Linked DNA regions of Homo sapiens. The protein of the gene in region 2 interacts with the protein of the main gene of each other region in a pairwise test. Each region holds a gene or a part of one and is shown on either strand. Other genes may lie near its edges.

The links.
Region 1: the proteins of SYN3 (region 2) and CFAP418 interact in a two-hybrid assay, tested with the Homo sapiens proteins (one study listed by IntAct).

What each region holds. Positions count from the first base shown.
Region 1 is NC_000008.11:95,250,019-95,260,529, reverse strand, and holds part of CFAP418 (cilia- and flagella-associated protein 418), read left to right. Parts: coding exon 1-62; intron 63-624; coding exon 625-690; intron 691-8,246; coding exon 8,247-8,342; intron 8,343-10,511. UniProt on the Homo sapiens protein: May be involved in photoreceptor outer segment disk morphogenesis.
Region 2 is NC_000022.11:33,052,942-33,063,284, reverse strand, and holds the start of SYN3 (synapsin-3), read left to right. Parts: upstream 1-4,903; 5' UTR 4,904-4,993; exon of another isoform or gene 4,994-6,124; intron 6,125-10,343. UniProt on the Homo sapiens protein: May be involved in the regulation of neurotransmitter release and synaptogenesis.

The DNA.
Region 1 (10,511 bases), on a different chromosome or scaffold from region 2:
TTAAAATCTAAATCTTCAGGTAACACATCTGTCAGAGCTTCCATTGAAGGCCTTGGTAAAAGGTAAGTTGAGATTGCTTTGGTGAATTATACACACTATTGAGCAAACACTATGAGCATAGTCTAGTAGATTTTGTTACCATTTAAACAGCAGTGACATTGAACAACAAAGCATTGGTTGGCCTTCAGGAGAAAGACCAATAGCAATATCTTCAGTGTTCTTATGGTCTGTGACCCCCTTTGTGTAAAGGAAATTAAATGGGGGATTATTGCTATTGTAAATAATTTTCTGCCATTTAAAAAAAGTGTGAACAGTTTCTCAAAATTAATGTTCTGTTATATTCTTCAGTATTTACTTTGTCCCTTACATTATTTGGCAAACACATTTTTCTTTTACTCATTTTAATTCCTTGAGTGTTCCTGAATGTACAGGTTATATCCAATAAAGCAGTGATCCTACAATAAATATCTCTTCTTTGAAATGGTTGGCTTGCTAGGGAAAATAGACAATTTGATTACAAGAACATAAAGTCAATAAAACCAAAAATTTTTTTAACATGGCCAAATTAACTTCTCCTATTTTTTGTTATAACTTCATATTTTTGCATCTGTTGAACACATCTAGTTGCAGTCCGGTGTACCTTGGTGGAAGCTCTATTCCATGTGGGATTGGAACAAATATTTCATGGAGGTAGGTTGTCAGAAATGTATTATACTTTCTTACTAGGTTTTTTCCAAATGGATGCCCCATTGTTAAAATGTAGTTATCATCTTCACATCAATCTGTTTTATAAGGAGAGGTATTTTTATTAGCTAATCTAAGAATTCTTTGTTTTTTATTCTTGGGAGATAGCTATTGAAAGCTGTGATGTTAGGTACATATTATTCATTTTATGCCCTTTTCTAAGCCCCACTTGAAATGCCTGGATCACTCCAGTCCCAGCTTTGTTTCCACAGGACACAGGAGAGTGAACTTCCTTCCAGGCAGTGGAAGCAAAGTGGCCATGCAGATACATGATGCCTTACCCACACTGCCTTGGCCAATTAGCATGCAAAGCTACAGGTCTGCATTGCCCAAAACATTCTCAAGCGTAGTTGCTTGATTTTACATGTTTACATATTTCAAAAACAAAAACCTTATGTTCTTTGTCTCTTCCCTGCCCTTCCTGCCTCCACTTTCTCACTCAGTACCTCTTTCTGGGCAGTCTTATAGTCATGATGCCACCTACCCCAAACCCATATTAGCCCCATAGTCCTAGCACATTCCATTGGCATTTTCATAATGTGGGCAAACAGTTTGGCTTTAAGCAAACCCTACTCTCCTGCTGCTTTTGGTTCTATTTTTGGCAGAGGTCTACTTACCTAACTTACTTTATTAAAATACTTTTATCTAATTATTTCTAAAACACTTATTTTCTGTTAATTTTTTAAGAAAGAATGGCCTAAGTTATATGATTGCATGTTGACCACATTTCTGGAGGGCTAACTGTTGTATAGTCAAGTGTCACCAACAAGGATACATTCTGAGAAATATGTCATTAGTCATAAGTCATTATGACTTCCTCATGTACAAACATCATAGAGTGTACTTACACAAACCTAGATGATATAGCCTACTCCACACCTAGGCTAGGTGGTATACTAGCCTACTACATACTACTAGGCTATAAACCTGTGTAGCATGTAACCGCACTGAATACAGTAGGCAGTGGTAACACAATGGTAAATATTTGTGTATCTAAATATTAAAAAGGTACAGCAAAAATACATTGTAAAAGATTTTTCAAATGGTACAGCTGTATAGGGCACTTAGCATGGACAGAGCTTGCAGGACTGGAAGTTGCTCTGAGTGAGTGAATGAGTGGTGAGTGACTGTGAAAGCCTAGGATATTACACTAGTATAGACTTTATAAACACTGTAGCTTAGGCTACACTAAGTTTACTTTTAAATGTCTTTAATAATATTAACCTTAGCTTACTGAAACTTCATTTATAAATTTTTTTATTTTTTTAACTTTTGATTCTTTTTAATAACAATTTAAAATACATCGTACAGCTATACTAAAATATTTTCTTTCTTTGTATCCTTATTCTATAAGCTTTTTTCTATTGTTTCATTGTTTTTTACTTTTTTTTTTTTTTTTTTTTTGAGACAGAGTCTCGCTCTGTCGCCCAGGCTGGAGTGCAGTGGCGCAGTCTCGGCTCTCTGCAAGCTCCGCCTCCCAGGTTCACGCCATTCTCCTGCCTCAGCCTCCCGAGCAGCTGGGACTACAGGTGCCCGCCACCACGCCCGGCTAATTTTTTGTATTTTTAGTAGAGACGGGGTTTCACTATGTTATCCAGGATGGTCTCCATCTCCTGACCTCATGATCTGTTCTCCTCGGCCTCCCACGGTGCTGGGATTACAGGCGTGAGCCACTGCGCCCAGCTCTGTTTTTCACTTTTTAAACTTTTTTGTTAAAAATGAAGACACAACACTCACATTAGCCTGGGCCTATACAGGGTCTGGGTCATCCATATCACTGTCCTGCACTTCCACATCTTGCGCCACAGGAAGGTCTTTGTTGCGGGGGTACAACACGCATGGGGCTGTCATCTCATAGTAACAGTGTGCCTTCTTCTGAAATACCTCCCGAAGGACCTGCCTGAGGCTGTTTTACAGTTAACTTTTTTTAATAAGTAGAAGGAGTACATTCTCAAATAATGATTCAAAGTATAGCATAGTAAAAGTATGAACCAGTAACATAGTTTATTATCATTATCAAGTATTATGTACTATACATAACTGTATGCACTACTTTTATACAACTGGCAGCTCAGTAGGTTTGTTTACATCAGCGTCACCACAAACACATGAGTAAGCATTGTGCTATATAGGACAGCTATGATGTAACTAGGAATAGGAATTATTTAGCTCCGTTATAATTCTATAGGACCACTGTTGTATATGTGGTCCGTCATTGACCAAAACATCACTGGGGCAAATTAATTATATTGAATAATAGAAGTGGGAGTTAAAAAAAACATTGTTGGAGGGTTGTGGTGGTGCCAGCCTACATCGAAGGACAATGCCCAGAAGGTAGGGCTATAGGACAAAAGTGAAATTAGGAGTCTGGAGAAGCCTTATATGGGAACACCAGGCAGCCAACAGGCTAATATAAATCCACTGGAATGTTACCTACTGTTAGAGCTATAAAGAAGAATTAATAGTAATTGAATCACCATGTGTTGAGGACTCTCTGTACAAAAAAATTAGAGATACAAACTGCCTGTAGAGGTAGTGTTGTTGCTGTCAGTCCTAAATTGCCTGTCTCAACTCAGTTGGGACTTGTCTCCGTCATTTTCAGAGCCATGCCTCCTCTATTCCAGGCATCTCTCAAGTCACCCATGAGCCACAGCAGCAGTTTCCCAGTTATCATCCACTTACATCTTTTCTAATATCACCCACATATAGCATTCAAGATAATATCCCTAAAATACTATTCTGAGTGCCTCTCCTCTATTCAGAAGGGAAGTGAGAGTTGCCATTTGTCTCACATTAACTCTAAACTCACTATTTGCTTTACCAAATTGTTATCCTTGTTGTTCCTCTTCTCTCTTTAGTTCCTTCAGCTCCAATTAAAGCCTGGGTCAGATATTCCACTGCCACTGGGATGCTTGTCATTCTGTACTTTCCACTTATGTTTTTCTGTGTCTGAGTATATTTACATTTATTCCCTATCTGGAACAACACTCCCTTCTAATGCATGTCTCCTGCTGCCTTATCTGTTTAATTCACACACTGCAGATTGATTTTTCTATTTAAATTTTTTCGATTTTTTAAATCCATTGAATGCCCATGTCCTAAACCCTGTGCTAGCTTATCAATAAAAGGCAAAACACTGGCCAGTAAGGAACAAAGAAGCAAATGATTACTCCTGTGGCCTGAAATGGAAGGGCTCTGATGACAGAATGCCTGAGTTCAAAGCCTCACTCTGCCACTTACAAGCTCTGAAGCCTTAAGAAGGGATGTTATCTTCTAAAACCTGTTTCCTCACTCTTAAAAACTAAACATATTTCATGGAGATACTCTGAGGATTAAATGAAATAATACATGAAAACTATGCCTATGGTGCAAAAGACAGCTAGGTACTGCAGGCACACTGGGTTCTAATTAAGGTGTCTTTCTCATCCATTAGTCCTGCTTTCTTGTTACGTTATATCTCAGGGACAAGAATCTTTATTCTACTACTAGTTTTCCATTTTATCTCAGGAAATACATATAATTACAGGTGCCTTCTGTTTTTACAAATGATCTTTTAAAAAAATACATTCTGGTTTACTTCTAAAAAGTAAACATTTCATTAAGATTTTCTTATGTATGAAATATTTTGTACGTACTTTGATTTAGTTGTAGCACAGACAAAATCTATGTTAGATGGAATTTCAGTAAACCAAAGAACAGCCTGTTTTCATAGCTCGAGGCTCCTATCACATACTATTAGTCCAAGTGGGATGCCGAAATCAATTATACCTGATTTCTACCTCCTGCACAGCTGTAAGAAGAGATACCAGTTGCATATATATGCGCAGGTAAATGTTTGTATTCACAGATTTTTTATTAGTTGCCCCTTTCATGAAACAGAATTTGCACCCATAGAAAGACAAACACATGTGTTCATCTGCATATGCAAATTTTATGTGTGAAGTACTTTATACTGTCCAGAGCACTTTTTATATATGCATATTGACTTACCTGCTCCACAAGAGAAAAACCCAAGATGCTGATCAAGAATTTTTACCTCCATTTTATAAATGAAGAGATTGAGGTACTTGTGTTAAATTCATCAAACACATATTAACCACCTGATAGGTCCTAAGGATTAAATGAACAAATTTTGATGAACAAATAAATGGACACTTCCTGTCTTCAATGAGCTTTCAGTCTAGATGAGGAGATGGGCTTTAAATAGATTATTCCACAAATAAGTATTTATTTTCCATTTGATATGTGACATAAAGGGAACATATGGGATACTATAAGCATAGATAATGGACACTCTAACTAATATGAAGGGTCAGGGAATACTTCTCTGAGCAGATAATCAAACCACAATATGAAAAATGAGTAGGAGTTAGACAAAGAGAGGTGACCATTGGAGCCAGAGCACACGCATGTTTAGAAGCTCCCTGAGAAGGGGAGGAGCTGGGGGTGTTCCTCTGGTGGAAGGAACAGAGAGTATCTGGCCATGCTGGAGCATAATGAGTAGGGAAAGAATGGCCACTGACTGGGCTGGAGAGAGAGTGGAGGGACATTTGGCTTAGGGTCCTGTAATCCTTTTGAGGATTTTGGAAAAAGTTTGTCCTGTGTTCAATGGGCCAGATTTGTGTTTCTTAAAAAAGTCATGTTGGCTGCTGTGCAGAAAATGGCTTGGGAGTTGGAGGGGCAAGACAGGAAAGGACACAGGAAGACTAGTCAATGGGCAGTAGTTAGAGTGGTCCAGGAAAGAGAAGATGGGAGCTGTGACCTGCGTGGTAGCAATGGCTATAGGGAAAAGGTCAAATTTGAAATATTTAGAATATAGAATTGACAGAATTCAGTGATTGACTAAGGAGGGTAAGAAAGAAAGTTGTTAAGAATGACTCCCAAATAAGGTGCCTTGCTCAAGGTCATATCAGTTATTGCAAAGCAAGGATCCAGATTGGTTACTTGATTCCTAATCCATTATGCTTTCTATTATACCACTTAGCAGAAAGCCATGTAATATGGGAAGAATCTTAGCTGATGTTGCTGTTGGAACTGCTGTTATCTTCAAACTATCCAGACATCAAGTTTCTTTAGTCCCATTGTGCAGATCTGATAGGATTTAACAGAGAACCACAGTGTCTGGGCAGAAGATTGTATTGGGTTGGATTTGGGGCATTCCTGTCGTAAACATCTTTAAAATAGTGAATTCTACTTTTTAGCTGGACAAAAGAACAAAGCTCTTGGTGACATCTTATGTGTGATTCCCTCTACATTTTAGAGGGAAAGACCTGACAGTTTGTCTTTCACTGGAGTCATGACTTTATATTAGATATGCTTTTATGTACATAGTTATGAAAGAGAAATATATTTCAGCCCTGAAAAGAGTACTGATTTACATGGCCAGGGCATAAAGGAAATTGAATCTATCCTGCCTATTTGCGTTGTTTGATTTCTAGATACAGCTCTGGCTTGAGGTAATGCTGAATGACTTTAGATTTTAGAAAAAGATTTGTCTTTCACTTGTTGGTGGAAAAGGGGAGAGAATAGTAGTAGGAAGCATGGTGGCAGTAATAAGTACTACAGATAAAACGAAGGCATTTTCAAGCCAATCGAATTTTACTCTCAATTATTTTTTAAACAACTTGCAAGACTGGATTATTCCATAGACTGGTACTAATTATGATCTAATAGAGTAAATCGTAGCAGTGGAATGATTTCTTAGCTGCAAGTTAGTTTTATGTTTCTCAAAGGACAGTGTTTGTAGGAAAATGTGGTGGTGTGAATAGATTTGAATAAACTACTAAATTTTAAATTAAATTAAAAAGCTGTATTTAGCATTATGGTTGAGATTTTACACATACAAAATGTCAGGAAATTCTAAATTATAGTTCCCACAACAGCAATAATTCAGCCAAATTGCACATATGTATTAAGGCATTAAAGTTAACACTCTGTGCAATCATGTAATAAACTATATATGCATAAGAAAGCAGGTCATAGTAGCTTTGGGAACTATCAATTTGCATTTCCTGACTTGTACATTCGAAGTCTGAGTTCAAATGTGTACAAATGTAGTTGTTGAATTTCCAAATGTAGAAATGCAACTTCATAAATTGCTAACAGTTTGAAAGAAAATATGGACTTGCCTATGAAACTTGTATAGGTTTTAAATGTTTCATTATTATTATGGTTAATAGTATTTTTAGAAATACAAAGCATTTATTCTCAAAGAAATTTTCAGGCCAAAAGTATTTGCATTTTGAAATTAGCGTATCTGAACTTTGAAGGGAAATAAATGAAAAAAATCTAATGATGAGTTTATTTTTTCATTACAGAAGTATTATGTGCTTAATGAAAGAATAAAAACAAAATTGAAACATGTATAAAGAAAAAGATAATAATCTCCCTTCCTTCCCTTCAACCACTCCTGATGCAACCAGGGTTACTGTGTAGTATATAACTTTCTACATTTTGCTCCATGTTCTTTTTTTTTTGAGACAGAGTCTCGCTTTGTCGCCCAGGCTGGAGTGCAGTGGCGCGATCTCCCCTCACTGCAATCTCCGCCTCCCGGGTTCACGCCATTCTCCTGCCTCAGCCTCCTGAGTAGCTGGGACTACAGGCGCCCGCCACCATGCCCAGCTAATTTTTTTGTATTTTTAGTAGAGATGGGGTTTCACTGTGTTAGCCAGGATGGTCTCGATCTCCTGACCTCGTGATCCGCCCGCCTCAGCCTCCCAAAGGGCTGGGATTACAGGCGTGAGCCACCGCGCCCGGCCATTTTGCTCCATGTTCTTATAAACTTCTAGCCACCTATATAGGAATTTTTTGTGGGGGTCGTTTTTACAAAAATAGGATCATGCTATATATGTTAGTGTGCACCTTGCTTCAGATATCCCTCCAGGTTAGTATATAGTCTAGTTATCATGAGCATTGTTTGTTTCTTCTCTCACTGCAATCAAAGCTCTATGAAGACAGAATCTCATTAGCACATACCAGACTCTCAATAAATATTTTTTGAGTGAATGAATGCATTATGCCAAGTTGTGAGGAAGCAAACAAATACAATCTTTTCCCAGCGCTTAAGCAGCTTATCTGAAAAACAGATTCATTTCAATGTCATGTGACATATTCTTCGGTAGAGATATTCCTGAAAATTTCAGTAGGAAGGGGAGCATTTAAAGAAGTTAGCTTATATGACGATCTCCCTCAGACGTAATTTGAAAACCATGGAATTAAAAGATCTACAAATCTATTTTCTTTCATATCTATATAATATATGTGTAAGTTCAGTGTACAAGATCATAGTAAAATAGGTAGGTTTGTGCAAAAATTTAACCTTAAGGTTTAGACCGTAAATAATGCTTTAGTATAAAGATTTATAATCAGATTAATCTGTACTTTTCTGTTGTTTATTCAGTAATCTGTAATATGTGGTGTATCCTATAAATAAATCACCATGTTTTCATTGGTATTTAAAGATACCAATAATCTTTAATATACAATTTTTTTTCTCTGAACAGAGCATGTGACCATCTGCGTTGTATAGCCTGTGATTTCTTGGTAGTCAGCTATGATGACTATATGTGGGACAAATCGTGTGATTATCTGTTTTTCAGGTATGTTGCTAAAGAACTTCACTCTGAAAAAAGTACCAAGTAGTTTATATTTCCTATTTTGATATATTCTCTCTGGGTGGATTCAGCCAGATCTTGTGGGCTTCACCTCTTCAGTATAGTCATGTGCTGCGTTATGATGCTTCAGTCAACGATGGACTGCATATATATATATACATGGTGGTTCCATAAGATTATGACGGAGTTGAAAAATTCCTATCACCTAGTGACATCATAGCCTTTGTAATATTATACTGCAATGCATTGCACATGTTTGTGGTGATGCTGGTATAAACAGTAACATGCTGTAGAGGTTTGTAGCCTTGGAACAGTAGCCTATACCATATAGCCTAGGTGTGTGGTAGGCTATACCATCTAGGTTTGTATAAATTCACTCTTTGATATTCCCACAATGATGGAATTGCCTAACAAAGCATAAGCAATGCATGACTGTGTTTCTGTCATCCATCTCCTTCTCTCCATCTGCCTGCTGTCAGCCTAGATAAGGACATGTTACTTCTGGACAAGAATACAGAAGTAACCTCCTCACTGGTTTTTCTGGCTACAATCTCTTCTCTCAGACCATCCTTCCCTTGTTCAGAATTAAAGCATAGCTCAGAGTATACCGTCCTCCTGCTCAACACCCTTCCACTTACAGAATAATGTCCAAATTCCTTAGCATGGCATTCATGACCCTCCATAATCCAGCTCCCATCCATCCATCATCCAGCTTTGTCTTCCCACAATGTATATTTCACCTTTGCAAGATTTTAGCTACATCAGAGTACTCAAGGCTCCCATTCCCTCTGACTTTGTACAACCTCTTTACCTCTTGGGATGCCTTCCCACCATTTTATCTACCTAAACCCTACCTGTCCTTCAGAGTATAATTCATCACATGTCTTCCATGATTCTTTCACCACTCTCTCAACTGGAAGAAAACTCTTCCCTTCCTGTGTATTCACGGTGCTTTGGACCTATTATATACTGTAATATAAAACTGAAGCTCTTAGGTTGGTGTATGACTACCTCCCTCCTTGTGGCTGAGATAATGTCTTGCTCATATTTATATAATTTGTACATTCTTATACACTTACAGAATACCTACTATCTTTAAGGTGTTACAAGTTATAAAAATATATTTGAACTTTACATTGACATTTTCAAATAAAAATTTAAAGCTAAAAATTAATACAGTGTAATATTGCAGCACTTTTCAATAGCATAAAGAAAAGGGTAAGAGACTTTCCCCTACGCCTTTTTTGGCAGCCATTCTTGGGTAAATCTATGAGTATACCCTAATTTAATAGTTTTTAAACTTTTTCACATCAAGAACCACTTTGCAAATCTTATGAAAGCTTTGAATGCCCCTCATACACATACAATTCAAATATAAAAATACATGGAAAAATTATAACTTGAAAAATTTTACAGTTTCCAACCCAAATAAAGCCTAATGTACTCCCAAAATCTGAGGTTAGGAACCCATACTTTTAGGCTTAGCCCACTTTTTACCCCATAAGTGGAAAAGTTGGCTTTTAATTACAGGTTGACTTTCCCTTTTCTGACTTTTCTAAACCCTCTGCTATTTACTGTCTACTAGTTAATCTAATAAGTGGTTAATAATCCCCATATGTCACCAAGATGAAGCATGAATTTTTATAAAACTATCATAGGATAATAAAATGCATGTAACATCAAGGCAGTGGTGAACACAGGCATAAAGTAAACTATGGATAACCTAGTCGGTACTTGAGGAACTTGCAGCATCTCAGAGTTATCAAGAACACCAGTTGGTTTACCCTAGATCTGTGGCAGCCTGGTTTAAAAAATATATGTACTTTTAGATAAAACAGTGACAACTAGAGGATTTATTATACTATTAAAAATAAACAAGTAGTCATTATTTAAATCAGTAGAAAATACTGTCTCAGTTCTCAAGACACTTAGGAATATGTTTGGGAGATAAGAGAATGGAACAGCTAAAGAATAAGGCGGTCTCCACCATTAGGATATAAATCACTGATAGATTTATTTTGTACAATATATTGGTGTTTACCAGTAGACATTATTCAGCACCTAGTCTATGACACTCTTAGATACTGGGCTCATAAGATGAGAGGAACCCAGGGGAAGGGAGACATGGGTGGGGACAAGCATGTGAGCAGCAAG
Region 2 (10,343 bases):
GGAGTTTAGGCACCATGATAGTTATGTAGGGGAAAATATTAATGAGCTTTTTCTATCACCTTAAAAATCTTGCTTTGGATGGACAACCAAAAAGACTCCACTCTTTTCGGTCCGTATGGTTAAGTCTTAGCTAAATGAAGTGGAAACTGTCCTGAATTAGGGCCTAGGTCCCAGGTATAGCTCTGTCACTCACCAGCTGTGTTACATGACACGAAGCTGTGTGTGCTAAAATCACACATGGCCTTTGTTGTCAGACAGAACTGAGTTCGAGTTCTCACCTCAACTATGTATTATCTATATGACCTGGGGCCACCCTCCATTTCTTCAGCTATAAAATGAGGATAATAATACCTCCTTAACAAGATCGGCATATGGGTATATAAAGCATTTAGCAGTGCCTGGTACATAACATGTGTTGAGTAAATGGTAGCTATGATTATAATAATCTATAAACTGTGAATACTATCTATTCTGCCTACTTCGCAGGAGTGCATATGAAATGAGGGAATTTATATGAAAGTACTTTGAAAAACTACAAAATTTACATACGAGAGGGCTATTTCTAGAGTGGTTTTGTTATTATAAGAGCCTGCTCACTTAAAAAAAAAATCTGTTAAGAATAGCAGACTTGGGTTCTTTTCAAAAACAAATAACCTTTTAAACACTACCACCGCCACCCCATGGGGTTGGATTTCTTACTGAGTAGTGAGGGAACATGTATACCTATCACCGTGTGTGCATCCATCTGTATGCAAATTCCTGCGCTGAATTGTTGCCCTGGGGAAAGGATCATATGATGCAATATGTTTCTTTTCTTCCTAGATCCATGAGGATTTTTGGTTAAAAGCAAGAGAAATAATTGGAGTAGCTAACACAAGAAGACAGTTTTAACAGAGATGGGAGACTCACAAAATAAAATTGGGTAGGGGACAGGGATGGCAGGACCAAACTTGAGAAACAGAAATCTAGGAAATTCACGAGGTTGGGCGGCAAGATTCATGACCAAGAGTCCAGGAAACTGCTGCCACCACCATTACTGTAAGCAAGCAGTCTTAGTATGTCCAATTTCTCTCTTCATCTTTGTCACTTTCGGGTGAGGGAAAGTCCCAGGAGTGAGCATCCAATAGGCTCAACTTAGACAACATCCTTTCTTCAAGGATTTTTGGAGTAGTTGGGGAGTGGCAAATTGTGCAAGAATCTGTCCCTGGGAATTGCCAGGTCACCATACAAAAAAAAAAAAAAATCCCCCAAAAGAAACATGGAGTACAAATAGAAATAAACAAGTCTTCTAGGAAGCCACCTTTTGTCAGCTCTCATTCTACTGATGAAGAAGGTTCAGAGAAGTTATTCAAGGACTTAGTTTCAGGTCTCCTGGTTCCTAATCCATGTTGACCCTCCTACACAAAACCCAGCAATTTATAAAATCATAAGCCATTTCTCCAGCTTTAAATGATGTCTAAGGTGGAGGAGATAGGAGTAAAAGGGACTGACTCTACAGAAAGTGATTTTCTGTTTTCAGGCCTTTTTGATTACATGAGATCAGTACATAAGAATAAATAATGCTAGAATGCAGCTGACCTCCAATGCATGATGGGAGAACCTCATTACTGCAAAACCCTTGGTGATATATATTGAGAAGTGGCTACAATACATTGAATTTTCAGTAGAAACCATTAAGCACTCCTGCATCTAATTGCCATTTTTTCTTATTCAGAGTGCAATAAAAAATAATTTTCCATGCAATAATTTATCTGGCTTTCATCTAAACCTCTATGCCATTCTGTTTCCTCTTTCCTTCCTTGCTTCAGACTGACAGCACTGAGGCCTTTTAGATTTACAGACCCAGACATGAATACACACCTTCCATGTTTCCCCAAGCAACATTCCTGTGCATATTTGAAAACCAGTAGTTAAGAAAAATTATGATGATGTTACAGCTCCAAAGGTTACAGTTGGGAGGAGTTTTGGAGGAGCTGTGCTCTAGCCTGAGGGAAACTGAGGCTTAGAAGATATATGTCAGGTAGATGGAGGTAGGGGCGGGCCAAATGCCATTAAAGACTATGCTGGGTTTTTCATTTGGGATTTCCTTGATCCTTTTATTTCCCATTATTGTTCTCATCCAATCTGGACAGACACTATGAGGGTTTCTTTAAAAGGTTGGAGGTATTGTCTAATCCAGAGGTGGAAATAGTCCCTAAGGGGATAAATCCAGCCCATACATGGGTTTGATCTTGTCCAACAGTCTTGGCCAATACAGTCTTTTAAAAAGTTTTAGTTAATTGGCTGGGTGCAGTGGCTCACGCCTGCAATCCCAGCACTTTGGGAGGCCAAGGCGGGCGGATCATGAGGTCAGGAGATCGAGACCCTCTTGGCTAACGCGGTGAAACCCCATCTGTACTAAAAATACAAAAAATTAGCTGGACGTGGTGGCGGGCGCCTGTAGTCCCAGCTACCTGGGAGGCTGAGGAAGGAGAATGGCGTGAACCCGGAAGGCAGAGCTTGCAGTGAGCCGAGATTGCACCACTGCAATCTCGACAATCCACTGCAATCCAGCCTGGGCGACAGAGCGAGACTCCGTCTCAGAAAAAAAAAAAAAAAAAGTTGTAGTTAATTACCAGCATTTAAAAAAACCAGAGATTTAACATAATCTGAATTTCTGGCCTCTTAATAAAAATCAGGGTCTGGTGTGGTGGCTCACGCCTATAATCCCAGCACTTTGGGAGGCCAAGGTGGGCAGATCACGAGGTTAGAAGTTCGAGACCAGTCTGGCCAACATGGTGAAACCCTGTCTCTACTAAAAATACACAAATTAGCCAGACGTGGTGGTGGGCGCCTGTAATTCCAGCTGCTTGGGAGGCAGGAGAATTGCTTGAACCAGGGAGGCGGAGGTTGCGGTGAGCTGAGATCGCACCACTGCACTCTAGCCTGGGTGACAGAGCAGGACTCAGTCTCGATAAAAAACAAACAAACAAAAAACAGAACATCTGGCAACTCTGGGTGGGTCTCCATTCACATATGGCAAAAATCAGTTGGAGCTGAGCAGTGACTGTCACCTTAGGCAGGTGTGCATACCTCAGTCTGTCACAAGCCCCATCCCTCCTTTCTATTATACCCTGCCAACCTCACTTAGTACATGACTACCCGGCCACGTCGGTATTAAAGTTTGTGATCCTTCAGCTAGTCTTATGCCCTCTTAGTTACTGAGGTTAGAGTCACTCCCTCTTAGTTACTGAGATCATGTACTAACGCTCATGCAGTAAGTGGAAGATGCTGGGTAAGAACCTTCCCGATCTTGGAAATAGTACCATTACTCCACAGTGGCTCAAGCTAAACACCTAGGAGATTTTCTTCTTTCATCCCTTTACGTCAACCCCTGTCATAGTCTATTTTGTGCCAATATAACAGAATATCACAGACTGGGTAATTTATAAGGAACAACAATTTATTTAGCTCATGGCTCTGGAGGCTGGGAAGTCCAAGATTGAGGGGCTGCATCTGGTAAGGGCCTTCATGCTGAGTCACCCCATGGCACAAGGCAGAACAAGAGAGCAGCAGAGGGGTGGGGAGAGGGCCACTCCTGGCATTAATGGAATCACCTCTTAAAGGTCCCACCTCTCAACACTGTTGCATTGGGGATTAAGTTTCCAAGATATGAACTTTGGGGAACATATTTAAACCATAGCATCCCCTAAATCCAGCCTAATCCATCATCAAGCCTTCCTGTGCTACTTTTGACACACATTGCAGGAGGTCCACCTTTTCCGTATCTTGCTGTCACCACCCTGGTCTTCATCACCATAATCTCTTGCCTGAATTGTTCCCTCCAGATTGATATGACAAAGCCCTGACCCTCACGGTGGCCTACAAGGTTCTGGGTGATGGTGATTCCACACTAGTCTACCTCTCTGGCTGTAACCCACTCTCCCCTTGCTCACCTCACTCAGCCACCCTGGGGGCCAGTTCCAGCTTCAGAACCATGCATCGGCCGACCCCTCTGTCAGCAATGCTCTTGCTTCAGCCCTGGAATCGTTTTTGTCCTCCAAGTATCCAATATCACAAGCGGCCCGGAGACCACCCTAGGTATAGCAGTCCTAGACCCCTTTCTTTTTCTTTTCTTTTTTTTGGAGACGGCATCTAGCTCTGTTGCCCAGGCTGGAGTGCAGTGGCTCTAACTCGGCTTACTGTAACTTCCACCTCCCGGGTCCAAGCAATTCTGCCTCAGCCTCCCGAGTAGCTAGGACTACAGGTGAGGGCCACCATGCCCAGCTAATTTTTGTATTTTTAGTAGAGACGGGGTTTTATCATCTTGGCCAGGCTGGTCTTGAACTCCCGACCTCGTGATTCACCTGCCTCGGCCTCCCAAAGTGCTGGGATTACAGGCGTGAGCCACAGGCACCCAGCCGACATTCTCTTGTTTTTTTCGTTTGTTGTATATAACCTACCCCCACCTCCACCCCATGCAAAGTCCACGAGGACGATAGACTTTGTCTTGTTCCCTGTTGCATCCTGGCCCTAGGGCCTAGCCCACAACCTGGGACATTTCCTGACAAGGGGCCCTGGTTTCTCTGAGGTGCCACCTGAGGTCCGGGAGGTCAGCTGACTTTCCCAAAGGTGGATTCCAAGGACACTGCATTCTTCGCACTCCCCGAGGGGCGTCTAGACACTCCTGGGACCCAGAATTATTAGCTAACTGGGCTCCTGAGTCCGGTGAGAGCTCAGAGTCTAGAAGCAACTTTCCCTGCCTGGAGAGGTGAACCCAGCAAGGCGTTGGGGAGAGGCGTGGGCGAGGGAGTGGGCGCGGGTGGGCGGGGCCGTCCGGGGGCCTCGTTGCCCGAGCCAATGGGGCGCCGCGGCGCGGGGAGGCCGGGCCGCCGGGCGGGGGCGCTCGCGCGCGTTGAGGGGCAGAGGCTGAGCTCCCGGGACCCGGAGCGGATCGACTGGCGGGCGCCGCGCCGAGGCACCACCGGGCGCCGAGTTCCTGGCGGCTCGCACGGTAAGCGGCGCGGCGCCGCAAAGTAGACTTTGTGGGGTTTCTGACAGCCGGGAGACCCCACCTCGAGCGGGGGCTGCTGGTGCGTTCTCGCGTCGGGCTGCGTCCCCTGGAGCTCCGGCTCTGTGTCCGCGGGATGCGGGCGCACGGAGGGGCAGGGAGGGAGGCAAGGAGCCGCGCACCACGGTGTCTCCCCAGGCTGCCGCTGCCGGGGCCCTGGGCCGGTCCCTGGGACAGACAGATCGGCGTGCGGGGGCCGTCTGCCGGGCCCGGGAGCCGGGGGCGCGCAAGACTGTGGATCCTAAGACTGCCTCCACCCAGCGCCCGGCCCGGGGAAGAGCTTGCGGGAAACCAGGAACCGCAGCGGCCGGACCTCTGCTCTGCGCCGGCTCCTAGGACCTGCCTTAGGTCCCCAGACCCCTCATGACCTGTTGCCTTGGGTTTGGGAGGTCAGGTTTGTCATGCCATTTCCGATTTCCAGTCATCCTGGGGGCAGGATGAAATTTCAGAGTGGTTTCCTGGCCAAGCTAGAAGCAGAGAATAGCTATGGATACAGCACCTCGTGTATCTATCCAGCACTTACTTGGCTTTTTCTGAGTGCCAGGAACTGTGCCAAGCCCTAGCAGCATGAAGAATGGCCTTTGGGGAGCTTCTGGGGCTAAGAGGGACAGTAGGAGGAGCAATTGCAGTGCAGGGTAGTGCGGAAGACTCGAGATGGAGAAGAGGACGGTGAGGAAGCCAGGAAGGTTTCAGAGAGGAGGTGAGCATTGACTGGAAGTCGGAGGTTTTGCCAGGCTGAAAAGTGTGTTGGGACTGTGAGTTGATAGGGAGCAGGAATTCCAGGTGGGTTTTCTTGTGTAAAGGTAAAGAAACTGAAAAGGTCCGGTGTCCTGACCTAGCACATCAGATAATTCTACAGCAGATAATGGAGTAGGACCGGGTCTTGCTGTAGGTAGGAAATGAGCTCTCGACATGGCAGGAAGCTAAAACCTGCACAGACCTTAAAGTGCAGCCTTAGAATATTTAGAATTTTATCCTGGAATGAAGGAGGGCCGTGGAAGAATTCTGATCAGTGATCAGGTCCCTCTGGCAGCTCTGGGGACAATGGATGGAGGCCGGAGCATCAGAAAGCTGGTAAGTTGTAGTTGTTTTCTGGTCCTTGGCTGCAAATACTCTTCCCTGCTTAAGGGAGCCCCCTCTGCCCGGGAGCCCTGCTCCCTGGCTTCTGGACATGGATTCAGGCAAAGAGATGCTGCCCGTGTAATGCTTGCTTCTGCAGCCTGCACATCATTTTGATATTGTTTCTGGAGCCTGTGACCTCAGTCTTGTCATCAGGCCTCTGAAGGGTGCCTCTGCTCTTCTTTTCTCATCTTCAAGCCCTCTGTGTGCCCTTCCCCTCTGCCTGGGCTCCCCTTTCTGTTTCACAGAGATCCAGTCTCAGCCATTGGAGGCAAGGCTGTGTGTAGATTGGTGTAGTAGAAAGAACAAGGGCTCGCTGGGAAATCAGACCAGAAAGTCACTTTAGCCATAGGCTTTGGGGACATTAGCAACCTTCATGAACCTTCTTTTTCTGATTTAAAAGGAAATCATTGTACTCACCTGTCATGGTTTGGGTTCCCTGGAAAAAGACTTGGCGCTTCTGAGATTTTTGTGCAGATAAGGGAAGCAGAACTGGGCAGAGGGAGATGTTGATCTATGGTGCAGTGCAAGAGAGGTCTCAATCCCTCCCATGAGACAAAGAGACGAGGCCTTTGAAGCTTAATGTTGATCAGCCAGTGGGTGCAGGCTGGTCCTAGGGAGGGAGCTAGGATGTCCCTTCAGCAGGACAGTTCCTGACTAGGGACTCACCTGGGAGCTGGGGTAACCAACACTCTGGCAGCTGGACATGGGGAAGTCATGAGTGTCTTGGTCTTGGAGGGGGAGTTGAGCATTTCCCCACGGTATCCACTACACTACCTCACAAATGAAGTAGTGCTTTGTACTGTGCCTGGTGCATAGTAGATATCTTAAAAGTATTCATTTCTCTCACCTTTAAGTTTCATGACTGCACCTGAAAATGAGTTTTGGAATTCGAGTTGAGTCAGCTTTTGTGAGGAGCTTTTAATAATAATAGCCACGAAGACTACTGCTTCCCTTTTTTGAGTGTCTATTATGTATATACATTCTCTTCTAGTTGTCCAATAATACTCCAACTTAGGTACTTTTATTCTCATTTTATAGTAAACCCAGTCTCTTCCAAAACCCAACCAAGTTGATGTTCTTTTGCCACAAAATAATAATTATAATAATAACAATCACTCACAACTCTATGATTTGTTACACTTTCCAAAGTGCTTTCATTGGTGGATTGATTGATTAATCATTCATTCATCCACTAATTAATCAATCAATGTGTATTGAGTGTCTCTTAAGGAGTAGGCGCTATCCTAGGTGATGGGGAGAAAGCTCAGTCTATTAGAGGAGATAGACATTAAATGCTTGGATTCATCAAAAGCAAGTGTTGAGGGGTGGAACATTGCATTGCATAGCCAGTATGTGATAGAGAATAACAGGCTCTTTGTCCAATTGACTCCTTGCCTTCAGTTTCAATATAACCTTCTTGGAAAGGCCTTCTGTACTCCCTCCCTTTTATTCTCCCTTCGTAACAGTCATTTATCTATTTTATTTACTTTCCTATTGTTGGTCCTCCCCTTTAGACTGCAGACTCCAGGGGATCATACATTGCTTCATCCCAAGAGCCTACCACAGGGTTTAGCACATATTTCTTAAATGAGTGAAATGAATGAAGGGTGGATGTGCTTAACAGTGTAGTCAGGGAAGGTCTCCCAAAGTAGTGATATTTACACTGAGATCTGGGGAATGAGAAAGATCCGGCAACGCCAAGATCAAGAGGCAGAGAGAACAGCTTATTCAAAGACCGCGAGGTGGAGGAATGGAGGCTATTGTGGTTGGAGCGCATAGTGGGCAAATTGTGTGGAGTGGCCCGAGATGAGTTTGAAGGCAGTGGAGTCTTGGAGGCCATGCTGAGCTTACATTTTTATCTAAAGTGCAACAAACGAATCATTGAAGGATTTTAAGCCTGATGTGATAGTGTATATTTGTGTGTTGTCTGTTATGCCTCTGGGAGGAGAACTCCTTGAAGAAAGGTGCTTAGTAAATAGTGCTTAAATGAATGGATGATCTGGTTTATGTTTTAAAAGGAGTCAATCTCAGCTTCCAGGTGAGAAGTGGAATAGAGAGAAGAAAGATCTTGTCACAGTTGGAAGCTCAGTGAGATATATATTGGTGTCTGGGCTAGAGGACAGCAATAGTGTTGGAGAAAAGTAAAAGGGTTTGAGCTCTATTTAGGAAGCAAAATGGACAGGACTTGCTGATACTTTAAATGCAGGGAATATGGGAAAAGGGTGGGGATGAAGGATGGTGGCCAGCCTTATGGTTTCAGATTGGTTGGCTACTGAAAGTCTGGCAGCTCCATCAGTAAGTGACTGAATAAACAAAATGTAGTATAACATACAATAGAATGTTACTCAGCCATAACAAGGAGTGAAGTACTAATACATGCTGCAATGTGGATGAACCTTAAAAATGCTATGTGAAAACGTGGTTTAAAAGCCAGACACAAAAGGTTACATAGTGTATGATTCCCTTTATGTGAAGCATCCAGAATAGGTCAATCCATAGAGACAGAAAACAGATTGGTGTTTGTGCTGATCTGAGGGGGAAGTGGGACTGGGGCTTGACTGCTTAATGGCTAAGTGGTTTCCTTTTGAGGTGATGAAAATGTTTTGGAACTAGATAGAGGCGACAGTTTGTACATCATCATGAGGATAGTAAATGCCACGCATTGTTAGTTTAAAATGGCTAGCTTTTAGTTATGTAAATTTCACCTAATTAAAAAAACAAACAAACAAAAGTTGGGTGGATGGGAGCACTATTCACATAACAGAGACTAGGCGAGGAGCAGGTTGTGCTTAGAGGATACAATTCAAATACCCTCTTGGAGATGCCCGTAAAACATCCACATAGAGACAGGAATTGGCTGTGAGTCTGGAGTCGAGGAGGGGAGTCTGGGCTGGAGATATAAATATGGCAGTTGTCAGCACTTAGATGTCAGCCAATAAAATGGATGAGTTCGAGTGTGAGAGAGAGAGGAGGAGAAAATCAGAGCTTTGGATCATTCTTTAATTTGATCTTTATAACTATTCATAGGAGATGCGATTGTCCTCATTTTTAGATAAGGACACCAACCCCCTCTCCCGTGTCCAAACGAACTTGCCCAAAATCAGTTCGTTCCTGTGAGTCTCCAGACTTCCAATCCTTTGTCTTTCCCATCTCAGTGTGATGCCATTTAGAACTTCGGCAAACACTTTCTCTCCCAAATCTTTTGGTCATGATTGAGTATTCACACGTGGCAGGCACTGTCCAGGTTTATGTTAGTGGAGAAAGTAGACATGGCTCTAATCTCATGGAGTTTATCCAGTAAACAGGAAACTGCAGCCCACAACTCCAGGAGACCTTAAGATCACAGAGCAGGGGCATCTATCCCTGGTTTGGGGGTTGGCGGGTGGTTGGGGAAGGCTTCCAAGAGATAGTGATGTTTAAGCTGAATTTGTAACAGAAGCAGAGGGAATTAGCCCAAGAAAGAGAATAATCCACCATTGTCTTCATTTCCCCGTTCCTCCCAGGTTCCTGGCATTCTCCAACTCATCAAGAGAGTCTATGTTTTCTGTAACTCTAGAGGCAATAAGTAAATAAAAGGCTTGGTTTGACTTCAAGCGGGAGCTTCAAAAGGGTAGCAAGGTCGGGTCCCAACAGCCTGTCTTTCAAAGCAAGGCTCCATCTCTTGCTCAACTGACTTATCCTTTTTTTTGAAACGGAGTCTCGCTCTGTTGTGCCCAGGCTGGAGTGCAATGGCGTGATCTTGGCTCACTGCAACCTCCGCCTCCTGGGTTCAAGTGATTCTCCTGCCTCAGCCTCCGGAGTAGCTGGAATTATAGGCACCCGCCACCGCACCCGGCTAATTTTTGTATTTTTAGTGGAAACGGGGTTTCACCATGTTGGTCAGGCTGGTCTCGAACTCCTGATCTCAGGTGATACACCCACCTCGGCCTCCCAAAGTGTTGGGATTACAGGTGTGAGCCACTGCGCCCGGCCGACTCAGCCTCTCTTAACCTGACTTTTTATACTTGGGATATGGAGCCATTGTTCAGTGCAGGAAATAAATGAGATGATGTAGCAAAGTGTTGGATACATGAAAAATGCTCAGAAAAATGTTATCTTGTTTGGAGAGGAAGACTTTCTGAGTTGATCAGTGGTTGCCACACTCTGTACACTATTTATAATACAGCTATCC